Regions from separate parts of the Homo sapiens genome. Here region 1 is linked to region 2. The links come from fine-mapping of genetic effects on gene expression. A gene starts in region 2. The other region holds a variant in brackets. All regions are shown on one strand. Distances are between the middles of the regions. Region 1 has its middle 230 kb from the start of LINC01065. Region 2 holds the start of LINC01065 (long intergenic non-protein coding RNA 1065).

The links. PIP is the estimated chance that this variant, and not a neighbour inherited with it, causes the effect. A credible set is the group of variants that fine-mapping cannot tell apart.
Region 1: its variant is the best candidate, but not a certain one, in a credible set for the expression of LINC01065 in testis (GTEx, PIP 0.81).

The regions. Positions count from the first base shown.
Region 1 is chr13:53,382,877-53,388,265 of GRCh38, reverse strand. No RefSeq gene overlaps it. Among named protein-coding and RNA genes, the nearest start is that of LINC01065, 230 kb to the right of the region's middle. The variant T/C (reference allele first, on the strand shown) is at 2,292.
Region 2 is chr13:53,149,222-53,154,610 of GRCh38, reverse strand. LINC01065 (long intergenic non-protein coding RNA 1065) reads left to right here and starts at 2,711. Exons shown (of 5, transcript NR_125788.1): 1 at 2,711-2,907; 2 at 5,107-5,254.

The DNA of each region.
Region 1 (5,389 bases), 230 kb before region 2:
AAGTAGAACCTTTTATGGGTACCCAACCCCCGCTGAGCTCTGGGGAGAATGGAGAATCACTGTGTACGTTTATGGGATTTGAGAGTAAAGGAGGCCTATGCCTCATTTCTCATGAGGCAGCAAACCCCTAAGAAGAAATTATTGAAACGTATCTAGAGAAGAAAGAACCTTAAAAATTCTCACTACATCCCTGTGGCTCGGTGTGGCCAAAAAGTAATAGAAACATCAAATGAACCTACTGTGACACAGAAGCGGATGAGGCCTCCCACAGCCTCCCAGAGGTCCTACAACCCCAAGTGGGAAATATATCACATTTTCTGTAAATCCCAAGGGGGCAGAAAAGATGCAAAGACAGGCATATCCAATGGGACTTTCAGGATGGGAACAAGAAACAATATAGCAGGTCTTCATAGGTGAGTGACAATTACATGACAACAGTGAGGCTGATGACAGGGATCTGCCCATCCAACATCTCTGTACTGTGCACTTCCCCTCACCCAGAGAACAGATAAAATCCCAGGGAAAGAAGACAGGGAAAGACTGAATTAACTGAACTAACAGGGATTTAAGTTTCTGACATCCAAGAGGATGGTGTTTCATAATAGAAATTACATTAAGTTTTAGGAAAAAAAAGAAGGGAAGTTACATCATTTACTCCCCTGAGTTTATAGACCTGGGCTTTACTCACACAAAGTGTCCAGCCCAGAGTTGACATGGAGTTCTCAATGAATGTAGTTCCTTCCTCTCCTCGTCTTACCTCCTGGATGGACATGATCAGGATTTTGAATGGATATTTAGTATCTTATACAAGACACAAGGGTTGACACACTTTTTCTGTAAAGGCAGACCATAAATATTTCAGGTTTTGCATGCTGTAGGCTCTATTGCAATGACTGTATTCTGCCCTTGTAACATGAAAGCAGCCACAGACAATACATAAACAAATGAGTGGAATGTTCCAATAAAAATTTATTTCCAAAAGCAGGCAATGGCCTAGATTTGGCCTGCAGGCCATAGTTTAGTGACCCCTGGACTAGAGGAAAGGAAAGTGGCTGAAAGAGGCTATTAAAATAATTATGAGATAATATAGACCTGAGTTAAGATAGCACCTGTAGGAATAGAAAGGCATAAATAAATTAGGGAAGAGCAGGCAAGCAGCTGCAGAAAGAAGGATCAGTGAACAATTCAAGTATGATTTCTACCCTTGTAGACTGAAAAAAATGATATAGTACTGAAAAAAATGGAGCAGTTTGAAAAAGTGTGGAATCCTAAGAGAGAATATAAATACCTCCCTTACCACAAAGGGTCTTAGTGCCCTTAATTCTACATATGTAGAATTCAAAAGCAGAAAGAACAAGAAAAACAACTGTTTCTGCAGGTTCAAGCTGCCACACTTCAGCAGTCATAATAGGATAATATAATATTTCACAAGTGCCGTCTGGACTCAGTGCTGAAGTCATGGTTGAAAACTCTTCAATTCCTCATGCAGGCAGTTTGCTGTGCCCAAAACCCAACCACTTTTCTTATCAGACGTCCACTCTCCAGAGCAACTAGGCACATATCCCAACCTCCCCAGGGCCAGGTACCAAACAAGCAGGGACAGCATCTATGCCCCAACTCCCGGGAATTATGCAAATTAGCTGATCCCCAGGAAGCCCCTGAACCTAACTTCCTCTCACTTGCCACACATAAGTCACCTGCTACATTTTCAACTTGCTGTTACCCCATCTCCAGGAGCAATCCTCTGTGTGGCCCTTCATGGCAACCTTCTCTCCTTTGGAGCTGTAAGTAGTAAAGTGTTCTGCCTTTCATCTATCCAATTTGTCATTGTGCTGTATCGTACTATCAAAAGAATCTTTAAATCTTTAAAGCACATAGTTACCTTATAATATTGATTTGAGAGGTGATTGGAGAAGAAAACTTTTCCAAATCTGATTTTCCTCCAATTCTCATTTTAGTCAAACAGTTCCGTCAAACTGAACACTACATGTATAACATAGTACTTGCCCAAACATTTCCAAACAATTTTCCAAAGCAGAAGCAAACATTCAGAGAGAAAATTGAGGGAAGGGACTTGCCATTTGATTATCACAGTACATCTGTTTTTAAAAGTCAGTCCCACAATGTTCCTAACAGGAGGTTATTTTGCTACCCCTAAAATGCAGTCAGCAAATGACATCAAGGAATGAACAGACTCTCCTTGATGAAAACTGGAGGAAGCTTTGCTAGTGGGTGCCTCCACCCATGACTGTCACATGTAAATCACTGATAGGGATTGTGAAGTTCCCTGG[T/C]AGTGGATTTGAGTGCTGTCCCTTCAGGATGTCCATTTCACAGGCATTTGTAATTTGCTGTCTGTAAGACTTGCTTCTTGCCATCTGTTCTGAATTTGTCACCCTTAGTTTACATTACCTAAAGCTGTAAACTAGATTGACATTAAGCATGCAATTTGAGATTTTACTTCTATCAATAAATTCGCTCGTAACCACCAGTTTGGGCTTTATGTAGCTTCTCTCTGCTCTCCAACATTGGTGCACTTAAATACCACTCTAGATGCCCTTCACTTCTGTTTCATAGCCATTTCTTGAATTCCCCTTCATACCCCGTCCTGTCCTCTACCCTCAACATGCTGCTTTCCCCCCATTCCCAGCTTATCCAGCTCCTCCTTGAGTTCCTTTTCTGAGCCCTCTTTTTTCCCACCTTCTTGGCCTTTTCTTCATTTCTTATTCAGTACCTCCAAGAAACTTCTCATTGCTTGATCTCTTTATTAAAATAATTCTCCAAATACCAATATCTAGGGCCTCCTCAAGGCTTTGTTCTCTAGAAATAAAAGATTTTGTCTCAAAAAGTAACAGAAAGAGTATGAACTTCAGAATTTGGACCCTATATTTTATCAGCTTAGTTTCCTGCCAAGTCACTTAAACTCTCCGCTGTGGTCTGAATGTTGGAGTCTCCCTCACATTCACATGTTGGCACTGAACCCCCAGTGTAACAGTATTAAGAGGTCAGCCTTTAGGAGGTGATTAGTACGAGGTTAGTGCCCTTATAAAAGATGTTAAAGGGATCTGCCCTCCCATCTGCCATGTGAGGACGCAGTGAGAAAGTTCCATGTTTGAAACAGAGCAGGCCCTCACCGGATATTGACTCTGGTGGTGCCTTGATCTTGGACTTCCCAGCCTCCAGAACTGTGAGCAATAGATTTTTGTTGATTATAAATTACCCAGTCTAGGGTACTTTGTTATAGCACCAGGAATGGACTAAGACATTCTATAAGTCTCCGTTTATTTATCTATGTAATGGGGATAAAAAAGTTACTATCACACAGGATTAATGTGTGGTAGTAACACACATTAAGATGTAAGACATCTAACATAGTGTTAGATGCAAAGTAGTGCCCAATAAATGTTATCTATTGTTTTTAGCAAAGGTTTATATTCTAATTAATGTTCTAGTTGAGTTTAAGTTATTGGCTTATTTACTGTCTATACATTGGATTCATAATACTGTTTTTTCAAAGTATGACTTAATTATTCCATCACATTATTTTATATTTATGGGTATACTTTGCAAATCTGTTGAAAGAATTTTAATTATGAAGGCTGAGGTAGAATAAAAATAGGATCTTCAATGTAAAGAGATAACCCACTAGTTGGACCAAGAACTAGGGTCTTTATTTTAACAACTATCAACTGAAAGCTAATTTTAGAAATCCCAATAAGTTATATTGCATTTTGACACTCCTTGGGAAACTTTGATCTGAGCTCAGAAGTTTCCAGTTCTACCACAGTGAAGGTGTTAACTTATACTCAGTTTGAAGAGGACAAAACACCACCATATTTGGGGTTATTTGTACAATTGTTTGGGACTAATTTTATTTTATTCCTTTTGCCCTTTCTTTATATTCTGACCTCAAATACTGCCCCTAAAGAAGAGAGCCATCACCTAGGACCCTGGATCATGGCAATAGCTAGGGTTGTCCTGACTTTCACCCAAGGCAGAGTGCATACAACCCACAAATATCTAATCTATGAATTCTCTTATTGTTACACAATAGGAAAAAAAATTATTTTAAGCCCAAGGCCTATTTACTGCCTAGATTTACTCAGGACTGAAGCTCTAATTAAGGAAGAAGAAGGAGGAGGAGGAGAAAGATGCAGGAGGGAGAATCGCAGTCATTTGTTTTTTAAAAATATATATACAAAAGAATTATGAAGGAAGAAGGAGGAGGAGGAGAAAGATGGAGGAGGGAGAATCACAATCATTTGTTTTTTAAAAATATATATATAAAAGAATTATCATAGAAACAAACATTCAGGTAGAAAATTCAGAAAATGCAAAAATATGCAATGCACATAAAAATGACCCAAAATATACTACTAAATGATAACAATTAATCATTGTTAATAATTTGATACTTTTTCACAGGGTTTAGTATACATATTCTCACACACCAGCATAGTATGAATTGAATTATTCATGCATTTTAGCATTTAACTTGCGTACAGATTTCAGGACCTATTTATTGCTTTTCTCAATATGAATCATCATACCTCATTAAATTCCTATAATAGCAAACTGTTCTATTTAACTGAATTAATATTTAGAGGCTTAATAATAGAAAGAGGGGAATCATTCTTGAAGAAAAGCAGGAACATTTCACAATTCTTGACCCAGCCATCTTCAATGGATTTCTAGGGATCTGATAGCTAGTTTAAAGACAGAATGGTTTGAATTTCCAAAAATCTACATATAGGCCTTTCCTTTAATTCTTTCCTTTAGTCTAACCCAATGGTTTTCAAATTTCAAAATGTATAAGAATTACTCAGTAGTTTGTGTATACATAAAACTGTGTATTATTATTTATGGGTGAATTAAAATACCTCTAAGCATAATTTTCACTATAAGTGATTTCCTAATTAATAGATGACTTAATTTTATGTAATATAACTTTACTATATGCACACATACATTACTGTTACACAATGTATGTTATTAAATAACCTACTGATTTAAGTTAATACAGACATTTTTCCATGTTATTAAATATTTATCTACAACATTCCTATTAATGGCTGCATATTATTTCAATCTATGAATGTACCATACTTTAATCAATACTCTACTTTTGAAGTTCCTAAGTTGTCATTAAGCAATTACCCCTCTTAACATGCCAAAATGTGAGTTCAGCTCGATTAAAGTGAAAATACCCACAATAATTCAGAAGGAATTAGCACAGCTCTATAGCCCCCTTCTCCATCTTATAACAAAAACTCAGATGGAGACTCCAACTCCAGGAAAACATAAACAAATTAATTATGTTTGGGGTTATTTCATGTTCCTGAGAGAGATAATTTCTCTTCTCTGGAGTGTGCAAATATATACATAAGTCTAA
Region 2 (5,389 bases):
TTCTGAGCCTTGCACACACCAACACAGAGCATTCCCTTTGGATATATTTTTCACTTTTGGTCTCTCATGTTCTTTTCTGTGTATCAGATGTGAAATGAAGTAATGGCACTAGCTTTTAATATGGTTTTCACAAGTGGTTTTGAAAGCAATTCCAGATGACAAGAACCAAAATATTTGGAGTGATGACAGATCTCTGATAATGTAGACTCTATAGTCTCCCCGGTAACCACTTTAAAATGCAAATATTTTTAGTTTATCTAAGTTCTGTTATTTTTAAATCTCACTAGTTTGTAGTCCTAGCTAAGATTCTTTGGGGTTTTTTCTGTTGTTGTTGGATTTTTTTTGTTTGTTTTGAGACAGGGTCTCGCTTCATCACCAAGGTTGGAGTGCAGTGATGAGATCACAGCTCACCGCAGCCTCGATTTCCCAGGGGCTCAGGTGATCCTCCCACCACAGCCTCCCCAGTACCTGGGACTACAGATGCATGCCACCATGCCTGGCCCCAGATAAGATTCTAAATATACATTTTGCTTCTTCTTAAGGCAAGCCAGCCATTGCCAACATAGAGCAACAAAATGCACATTGCTTTGCTAGGGACCTTACAGAGTAGATAAATGACACAATGTCTTCCCTCTAGGGAGGATAAAAAGAATAATGAAAGATGTGTTTTTTCCATAAATGCATATATTAACATTTGACTTCACAAAAAGTGCTCATGTAAAGAACAATACTTTCCCTTGAAGTTAAGCAATTTTATGATGGATCTAACAGTACAGGGAAAAAGGTCTTGGGGCTAATAATAATAATTAGCACTTATGTTGGTACTTTCTGTGTTCAAAGCATTTTGTGGAAGATTAACTCGTTATTCTTCCCAGCGTTCTTGTCAAGTTTATAAAGCTTTAGACTGTTCTGATGTCCTCTCCAGTACAATTCCATATAATATGGGAACATTCATTTGATTTTTACATATAAATACTACTGGAGTTCTGATTATCCCACACTGTGTCTGATACCCAGTAAACTCACAAACTTTGGTGGAAAGAATGGATGGTACTTCCTGGATCCTTATTTCAAAGATCCATTCAAAATTCAAGAGTCTGACCAAAGAATGGATTATCACTTTAAGCATCCAACTATATTTTATCAAAATGGTCTCATTTACATTTTTCTTCATTTAAATCATGAGTTCCTCAAGGACAGGAACTGTGTGTTTTTCATGCTTGTTCCAAGGATCACCTAGGCATGTGTTGGCTCAGAATGATGCTTAGTAAGCCTGTGTTGAACAATAAAAATGAATTCTTTATTGATAAGTTCTTATTAAATTGTGAAGAATAAATAGCATGTGGTATCTGTCCTGCCCTCTAGGAATAAGTATGAAAGAGGAAGCAGGACTTATATACAGAAAGCAACTGGACACAAAATAGAAAAATACAAAATACAACCAAGTGCTACAATGTGTGGTTCGAGAAATGAGCGCTAAGGAAAAATTACACTTGTTTTGTTTTGTTTTTTGACTTCTCAGCCCATTAGCTCCACCTCCTTCCTTTGGGTATATGTGTATATATACAGAAAGAGTGAGACAGCTTTTGGCCTGCAATAAAATGTAACAGCCTGTAAAAATATTATATTTTCTACTCTGTTTAATATAGAAAGTTCATTCAGTTGGAAATTATATACAGATTTTTAAGTTTCTTTCTGTACAAAACAACAACAAAACTCCAAACACAGAAACACACGCACAAATACACTGAACTTTAATGGTGATCTTTATTCAAATTACAGTTTCTGTGCACACCTGTAATCCCAGCTACTCCAGAAGTTGATGGGAGCATCCCTTGAGCCCAGGAGTTCAAGTCCAGCCTGGGCAACATAGTGAAATCCCACCTCTCAATCTTTTAAAAAATTAAATTACAACTTCCCATATTATAAAAAAGTACTGCAGCTCCAAGCTTGAATGGAAATTCATTAGATTTTTATAAATTTGAAGGAAGTTTATTTCTGAAAATAAATTTTGTTGAATTTCTTCTTAAGGTGGAAATTTGTTTTTCATTCCTTTTCTTTGCATGTGAGTTTTGTATCAGTTGTGGAACTCTATAGCTCCACTACATATTTGGGTATTTGAATATTTGAATCTGTTGTGCTTTTTCCAGGAAATTCTGAATTTTAGGATAGTCTACAGGTACCATAAATTGAGAAGTCCAAACAATTCATTATCTTCCTTGAAGCCCAAACCTGCCATTTTTCTCAGATAGGAAAGCCACCAAACATAGGGAGCATGCCTGCCACTTCCCTCTGGCCCGTCTCTGGCTCATCCGCCACAGAGACCTATTTATTACATCCCCTGAGTATTCTTCTAATTCCCCCTCCTTTCCATCCCCACTCTTTCAGCCACACTTCAGGACCATGGTCTGTGCATCGCTTAGTCTCATCCTAATTTATCCGCAGCTCCACCCACTCCAACCTCCTCTCCCCTCTCTAAGACAACCTTTACTTCCCCACCTATGCCTGTTCCAATTTACTGTCTCTGAACCCCACATATGCCCTTTTCTGCCCTACATTATGATAACTGGAGCTGGACCTAATTTCTTTCGTTAGCGGGCACAATGTTAGACCTTGTCAGTAGAGGGCGCTAGAGGGACACTGCACAAGGAAGGGGCTTCTCTTCTGGTTCCAGCTCTGTTCTTAGAAAACAATGAGCTGTCTCCTTGCCAACCAGCAGCTCCCTTGGTAGGGGCATGCAGAAGACCTGATGACACAAACCCTCCAAAGAGTTTCACCCTCACCACAACAGGTGGCTTCCTGCTCGGCAGCCCATCCTGCATCACTTCAGTGGACTTCTCTGACATCTACTAGACCACATTAAATGAATCACAGCCTTGAAACTGAACTGGAAGGACTTCCTTCAAGGTTATACTTTCTTTGAATACTGTCTTTCAGCCCTATGCCTAGTGACTGCTCCCTGCGTCTTACCCCAGTTTTCTTGAGAATTCCCTTTATACTTCTTAGTAGATAATACCCTTTAATTAGTTCCTTATTTTTATGTGGTATTAAGTTTTCCCTGTCCAAACTATTAGTCATGTCTCACTTAATGATGGGGATATGTTCTGAGAAATGTGTTGTTAGGCAATTTCATCATTGTGTGAACATCATGGCATGTACTTACACAAACCTAGATGATAGTATAGCCTATTACAACCCTAGGCCATATGGCATAGTCTATTGCTTCTAGGCTACAAACCTGTACAGAATGTTACTGTACTGAATGTGGTAGGTAATTGTAACACAATGGTATTTGTATATACAAACATACCTAAACATAGAAAAGGTACAGTAAAAACAGTGTTGTAATCTATGGGACCACCATCATATAGGCAGTCTGTGTTGGACAGAAATGTCATTATGCGGCTCATGACTATACTATTGTGATTTCTGTCTCCTGACCAAACCCTGACTGCTTTACCACTTTTGTTCTTTCTTTATTTTCTTTCTTTTTTTTTCTTTTTTACAAGGTCTCACTCTGTTGCCCAGGCTGGAGTGCAATGGTGTGATCTCGGCTCACTGCAACCTCCGCCTCCTGGGTTCAAGCGATTCTCCTGCCTCAGCCTCCTAAGTAACTGGGATTACAGGAGCCCACCACCATGCCCAGCTAATTTTCGTATTTTTAGTAGAGACGGGGTTTCACCATGTTAGGCAGGCTGGCCTCGAACTCGTGACCTCAGGTGATCTGCCCATCTCAAAAGTCTAGTTGGGAATGGTAATCACACAGTTTGGCTATCTCCTCAGGTCAGATTACTCAAATAAGGATTAAACTGCTGCTTATCTTTATGCTTGGCAGCATGGTACCTAGCCACGTGGTACCAAGAGTGACTCAGACATGCCTTACCCTCTCTGTGTTACACAGCTCACCTCCAGCTAGAGCTGTTGAACTGTAACACAGAAGCACCCATTTCTCTGCTCACAAAGTGTCATGGTACCCAGGGGCAAAACTAACTCAGACACAATAGTACTCAAGTGTTCTCCATCATTCCAGCTCAATCCAAAGACCCTCAACACATTCCCTGAAATGAGAGATGAAGTGCACTGACAGAATTCAAGGCATGTTTGAGACAAACTTTTCTCCTTGCTTAAGTCTTCTCGGCAATGGTTGGCTCTACCATTTTAAAAGACCTGCAATTGTGTGCAATGAAAGTAGTTCCAGGCTGCTGTATCTTGCTCCCTTTCCCACAGACATCACCAGAAGCCCAATTCATCACATTCTTAACAGCACTCTTCAGATTTATCTGTCAGGGCAAAGGATCCAGATTAAAAATGAAACAACCATTTCACTTGCTTGACAAGGGGAGACCCAGTCTGCCAAATTTCCGTCCCTATCACTGGAGAACAGGACTTTAGGAAATAAATAATAAATGCTTTCTGACCTAGGGCCACCTAGCCTGGAATACTTAGGGGCGTCTTATCTTAGTGCAACAATTATTCCAGTTAATAGGTTAAGGGATATATATAAGATTACCCGTAATCCTTTCACACTGTTGTTCAGGGCTTATTTGAGATGCAGGGCACACATATTTAAGGATTAGCTCCTTCTCTCCGTACTCATACCCTTAGAGTGATATTACTTCCTGCTATCTTCTCTTGTGGAATAGAAATGAAGAATAGTTACACTAGGGGAGTTATTACAATCAGGCTCTTTTATATCTTTAAGGCAATTACAGGCAAAGACAAGAGTGCCTAATGCACAGCATTTCCAGAATTTGTAATTTTGGCATCTCATCTTGCCAAGCCTTGATAACATCCAGATGTTGCCCTATTGAAAGGTGTTAAATAGAATAAACCTCAAGCCAAGAGTACTTCCATGTTATATTTTGGAGACTTCCAAAATGTAAAACATTTTCTCTTTGAAATATCAGAACTTCGGTAGTTTAAGCAATAATGTTCTAGTCTGCATAATGTTTTAATGTCTAATAATAACAATAACAGCAGTAACACTTTGTTTCTCCATTTAAAAAGACTTATATAGTGTTGACTATGTGCTTTTCAAATATTAACTTATTTAATTTTCTATGTGCTCTCTCCTGGTACAACAATCTGCTCCACAAATTTCTCCAGATTTTTATCTAATTCCTGTTGGACAGTGTAAAATGCCACTTCTTCCAGGGTTGCCTGCATATCATCAAAAGGGAAATAGTACTCATCGAAGATGTGCCTTTGCTAGGAACTAGGACAAGGGTGGCCTTTATAAATTCATGAAGAGAAGGTATTGTGTTCATTCACAGACTTTGTGTAGGAATTAGGGAGAAAAATGTAAACCCTAAAGTTAATACTCCATGGGCACATTCTGGGCACAAGTTACCTTGGAGACATTTTGAGGTGGCAGGGCTTTTCCTAGAGT